2 separate regions of the Homo sapiens genome follow, and region 2 is linked to region 1. Evidence: fine-mapped expression QTL. Tissue or cell type: whole blood. Region 1 holds a variant in brackets; the other region holds the start of a gene. All regions are shown on one strand. Distances are from middle to middle.

What was found. PIP is the estimated chance that this variant, and not a neighbour inherited with it, causes the effect.
Region 2: CCDC154 starts here. The variant in region 1 is fine-mapped to the expression of CCDC154 in whole blood (TOPMed, PIP above 0.99).

The regions. Positions count from the first base shown.
Region 1 is chr16:1,465,869-1,468,620 of GRCh38, reverse strand. The region is part of intron 1 of CLCN7 (chloride voltage-gated channel 7); the gene reads left to right. Among named protein-coding and RNA genes, the nearest start is that of CLCN7, 7.8 kb to the left of the region's middle. The variant A/CA (reference allele first, on the strand shown) is at 1,518.
Region 2 is chr16:1,443,445-1,446,196 of GRCh38, reverse strand. CCDC154 (coiled-coil domain containing 154) reads left to right here and starts at 1,641. Exons shown (of 17, transcript NM_001143980.3): 1 at 1,641-1,881; 2 at 2,185-2,401; 3 at 2,502-2,691. The coding sequence starts at 1,875. CLCN7 (chloride voltage-gated channel 7) reads left to right here. Exons shown (of 25, transcript NM_001287.6): 25 at 1-1,262.

The DNA of each region.
Region 1 (2,752 bases):
CTGAGCCTGTCTGTTTTTAGTTAGTGTCCGGCGCTTGGGACCGTGTAGGTTGCCGTGTGTGGCAGGAGTTTGAGGAACAGCATCTAGTGTTTAATTTATAAGAGCTTGCATTTAAAAAAGAAAGTAACCGCACGGAATGCATTGCTGAACTTGAAGTAAACGTCGTGTTCTTCCATTACGAAAGCCACCTTCTCAAAGTCCTGGCAGAGTTAAGGAAAGAGATGCTGGGAAGGCAAGGCGCCGGAGCCCCATCCTTTCACTCCGGGCAGGGGCAGCTGATGCCCTGCTGGGGGGCAACCCCTCACCCCTCACCCCTCTCGGATCTGCCAAGGCGGCGGCGGTGGGGGTGGCCCGCTGGTCACATACTGCACCGGCAGCCTTCACCTTGGCCTGAATGCATGTGCGGCTCTGCCTGCTGCTGTGGGACAGTGCTGTCGTGGTGTAGACGGTGGCCCTCCTCAAGGCCTCCCAGGCCTGGCGCCCAGGACATGTGACTGTGGCTGTTTTCGTTTTGTTTGGGTTTTTTTTTTTAATTTTAGAGATAGGGTCTTGCCGTGTTGCCCAGGCTGGAGCGCAGTGGTGCAACCATAGCTCACTGTAGCCTCGACTTCCCAGGCTCAAGCGATCCTCTTGCCTCAGCCTCCTGAGTAGTTTGGGCCACAGGTACACGCCACCATGCCTTGCTGATTTTGATTTTTTGTAGAGACAGGGTCTCACTACGTTGTCCAGGTTGGCTTTGAACTCCTGGGCTCAAGCGATCCTCCTGCCTGAGCCTCCCAAAGTGCTGGGATTACAGGCGTGAGCCACCACGTCCGGCCAGAATGATCCGTTATTTCCAGCAAGGAATAGCCTGAGAAGCACGGCAGGCCTTGAGTGGCGTTAGAGAGAAGTGCTGACATCTTGAGTGATGGAGAGGGTGGCCCTCTGGGCAGGGTGTGTCCCACAGGGTGCCTGTTTGGACGTGGGGTCCTTCCTCATGGTGAAATGGGTCTTTTGGGTTCCGTGGTCTCTGTTTGGGGCATCGGGGCACCTGTCCACCTGGGAGGTGGGGGTCAGAGGCCCAGCGCTGGTCCCAGGGCTGTTTTCTGGTGGTGAGACCTGGAGTCCAGGGGCTTTGATGTGAGTGTGAGCAAGAGGGAGTGGGCAGCTGGCCAGGCCACTGCTTCCATCATGCCTGGACCGTGGCACCTTCCTCCTCCCACCGTCAGCCCGTGTGGCAGGAGACTCAAGCTGTGAGTTTCGCCTGTGACTGAGGGCTCAGGGAGAGCCACTGGCATGTGGCAAGGCTGGGGGAAGAGGAGGGGCAGGCGCCCTGTGACTCAGGGTTGTGTCCAGCAGGACCTGTGCACTCTAGCCCCTCCCACACTCTCCCCTGGGCGTGGAGATGCCACGGCAGACACCTGCGAGTCTGTCTGTCTGTCTGTCTGGCCTCTGCTCCTGGCTTTTGATGGGGATGGCCTGAGAGTGCTCTTTGCCTGGGGAGAGGAGGAGGCTCTGACTGGTGTCTGCCAAGGGCC[A/CA]GTGGCACGTGCCCAGGTTCCTTCCCCTGCCAGGGCCACTTACCGGGTCATCAACACGGGGGGTGTACAGCAAGGGCGACGGTGGCTGGTAACAGGACGATGGTTGGGGAAGGGGTCCCTGGAGGGCAGTGGGCTGGAAGGTCAGGTTCTTTTTTTTTTTTTTTTTTTTTTTTTTTTTTTGAGACAGAGTCTTGCTGTTACCTAGGCTGGAGTGCAGTGGTGCGATCTCAGCTCACTGCAGACTCCACCTCCCGGCTTCAAGCGATTCTCCCGCCTTAGCCTCCCAAGTAGCCCGCCTACTTTTTGTATTTTTAGTAGAGATGGGGTTTCGCCATGTTGGCCCAGCTGGTCTCGAACTCCTGGCCTCAAGTGATTTGCCCGCCTCAGCCTCTGAAAGTGCTGGGATTACAGGCATGAGCCACTGTACCCCGCCGGGAAGGTCTGGTTCTGAAGGCAGTTTCTGGGATGGCGGTTTGGGGAGCCCGTCTCCTTCAGGGGTGAGCACTCCAGAGAAAGCAGGACCCCCACCCCTGGCTCGCAGTGACCTCAGATCCCAAACCTTCCTTCTCTGCTTCTGTGTCCTTGCCTGTGTGTGGTAATCGTGATCCCCGTGGATAGGTGGAGGTTGAGGGAAAACTGGGCCCCAGTGCAGGCCGTTCCTGCACGTCTCCCCGTCCCCACCTCGGCCCTGTGGGCTCCTGGCGCCATCACCTGCCGTTCTATCACCAAGAAGCACTTCCAGGCCCTGCTGAAACCTGGTGCGGGAGGCCGAGCCTGAGGAAGGTGGAGGGAGAGATGGGGGGATGAGGAGGGGACGGCGTTGGGGGCCGGGAGGGCTGCTCCCAGGGAAGGCGGGCGGCAGCCTCGTTGGTCTTCCCACGGCCGGTACCAGCCGCTGGACTCCTCCGCCAACACTTTCCTGACAGGCGCACGGGCTCTCTGATGCAGATGGCGGGCGCCCTGCGCATGCGGTCCCTCCACCTGGAAGGCAGCCCTTCTTCCCTTCATGTCCCCAGATGTTGCTAAAGATTCAGGAGATAGTGGAAATTGGAGTCGTCTCCAAAGGATCTCTTTGGGGAAAGGAGGCTGAGGTCTTGGCTCCTCCTAGCCTGGCCTCAGCGCCTTGGCTCTAGTAAGGAGCCGGAGACTGGGGTGGGAGCTCCGTAAGTCACATCTGCACCACGCCACCCAGGGCCCGCTGCCCTGCCCCTGCCCTGAGCTGGGGCGGCCGCAAA
Region 2 (2,752 bases), 22 kb after region 1:
GAGTCTTCGAGACTTGGGAGCTGCTTGGCCTCATTTTCAGCCATGAGCAGACGGCCTGTGGTCCCTGGGCCTGAGGCACGGACTCGTAGCACCAGGGTTTGGAGGCTGCGACCGCCCCGGAGAGCAGCTTCACACTGGCGCCACAGAGGAGCCCCACGTGCACTCCCCGGCCTGCATCCGGCTTGGGTACACAGGCCCAGAGGACTGGGGTGACTCACGGGCCCTGTGCTGTGATGTTGAGAGCTGAGAAAAACCTCCAAGGCCCTGAGCCCCATGCCCAGCCCTGCCTTGGTCCCCCAACCCCCAGAGCTTGGAGTCTGGGCCCCACACCCAGCCCTGCCTTGGTCCCTGAGCCTCAGAGCGTGGAATTGCTGCCCTGTGGACACTGGCTGGGAAGGCAGGTCTTCCCCTAGCACATGGGGACCCCGGCCTCGAGGGTGACCTCCCTACCCCGCCCCTGCCAGCCACCAAGCGCAGGTGCAGCGGGGGCCAGACTCCTGCCGGCCTCAGAGGACACCTGGCCCAGCACAGGCAGCTAGAAGGGCCGGTGGGCACCGGGGCCGGGAAGCCCCCACCTCACCACCTGAGGGCCCCTGGGAGGCTCCTCTGGCCTGGCTGGGCTGGGTCTGGGGCCGCCACAGGCCCCTCACGGGGCGGCAGAGGCAACTTCAGTGTCCCTGTTAGAGCAACACGGGTCCCTCCGTGGGGGGCTGGGTGCGGCCCCCTGCCGTGTATTTCCTCCCCAGGGAGTGGGGCCTCCCCGGGAGCTGACGCCACCACCCTGCTTAGCCCTCACAGGGCCCCAAGGTGTCCGAGTGTGTTGGGTCTGAACGCGAAATAAAGAAATCCTCTCAGCCCGCCTTTGCCAGCGTCGTCCCTCCCACCCCACCCAGACCACGTCCAACAGCCTGGGACTTTCGGGACCCTGGGGTCGGGGCACCGTGTGGAGTGAGAAAGGCGTGAAAGACAGCGGCTGCGGCCACCCAGGGCACCAGCCACATCCTCTTCCTCGTCCCCGCCCCTCAGCCTCCCTCCTCTGGCTCCTGGCTGGTGGGTCTGGGGGCAAGGCAGAGGCGCTCCAGGTGGAGGGGGGCGGGCCGGGGTGCCCACGCTGGGGTGACGCAAGAAGAAAACTCCCGGGCCTCAGAGTCGGCGCCGGAAACCTAGGTCTGGGTTTCCCTCGTGGTGGTTGTGTACTGAGGACCTGGAAGTGATCATATTTTGGATATATTCGGTTAAATAAAATCAGCGGTTAGGATTCACATCGCTGCTTCTTGCCTTTTAATGGGGCTGCTGAGCAAGATGGGTTCCCGTGGAGCCCGGCTGTGCCCCTCACCCCGATGGCGCTGCCCAGGCCTCGGGCTCCGCTCGGACGTGGGCCTGGCTGTGTCCGGGGTGTCCTGGGGCTCTCGGCCTCCCTGCTCCCAGCGTCCCTCCCGGCGTGCCCAGGCCTCGTCAGGGCCTCCTTCCCCTCCCTCGGCAGCTGAAGAAGTCCCCTTTGCCAGAGGACACGTGTCTGCGCCCTCTCGGGAGTGGGGCCCCTCAGATCCATCCAGAAGCAGGCAGTTGGGGGGCCCTGCGGGAGTGGGAGAGCTGAGGGCTAGAGTTCCATTGGCAGTTGGGCTGTGAAGCCGTGAGGTTCTGGGGAGAGAAGGAAGGTTCTGGAACGGCCCCGCTGCCCCACACCTGCCTCCCTGGGGACCCTGAGAAGGCAGCCAGACGAGGGCAGCAGCTCGTCCCTCAAGGCCCAGAGCTCTCACGGGACTTCCTCTGGCTCCTGACCCCCCTGGCCTGTGCCCAGCTCTGGGCAACCTCAGAGGCCCCAAGGCCCAAGCTACAGCCGAGGGCAGGGTGGCCGGTGCAGCCCAGCAGCCATGTCAGGTGACCAGAGCGGAGGAGCGGGGCCCAGGGAGGGGCTTGCCACAGGTGTGAGGGTGGGGACCGCTCTGCTTCTGACCCCGGGCTCCCTCCAGCTCGCTTGTTCCTGCCGCCCAGTGCTGTGTGTCTTCAGGCAGGGCCCTGGACTTGTCTGAGCCAAGCCCGTCTGGATCCTGTGTGACCCAAGGAGACGCGTTGAGCTCTGGGTGGTGGGCGAGGGTCCTGCGGGGGTTTGGGGCCTTGTTCCCGTAAGCTCCAGTGGGGGCCGGGCCCCAAGGGGCAAGCTCCCAAGATGCCTCCTTGTAGAGTTGGCTGACAGTGGACCCTCAGGGGCATCGGCCCCTTCCCAGCTGAGAGCCGTCACCCTGGAAGACCTGGGGCTCCTCCTGGCAGGAGGCCTGGCCAGCCCCGAGCCCTTGAGCCTGGAGGAGCTCTCGGAGAGGTATGAGTCCAGCCATCCGACATCCACGGCCTCTGTCCCCGAGCAGGACACCGCCAAGCACTGGAACCAGCTGGAGCAGTGGTGAGCCCTGCAGGGGGTGCTGGCGGGGGAGGACCACGTCGCCGCCGCCTCCGCCTCCACGGCGGGCACCGCCAGACTCGCCCACTCTCGCCCCGGCCAGGGTGGTGGAGCTGCAGGCCGAGGTGGCCTGCCTGCGGGAGCACAAGCAGCGCTGTGAGCGCGCCACGCGGAGCCTGCTGCGGGAGCTGCTCCAGGTGCGGGCCCGCGTGCAGCTGCAGGGCTCAGAGCTGAGGCAGTTGCAGCAGGAGGCGCGGCCGGCAGCCCAGGCCCCCGAAAAGGAGGCGCCGGAGGTGAGCGGCTCCCCCACCCACAGGTCGAGCTGCCCCTTTCCTGGGTGTTGGGGGCAGCTGC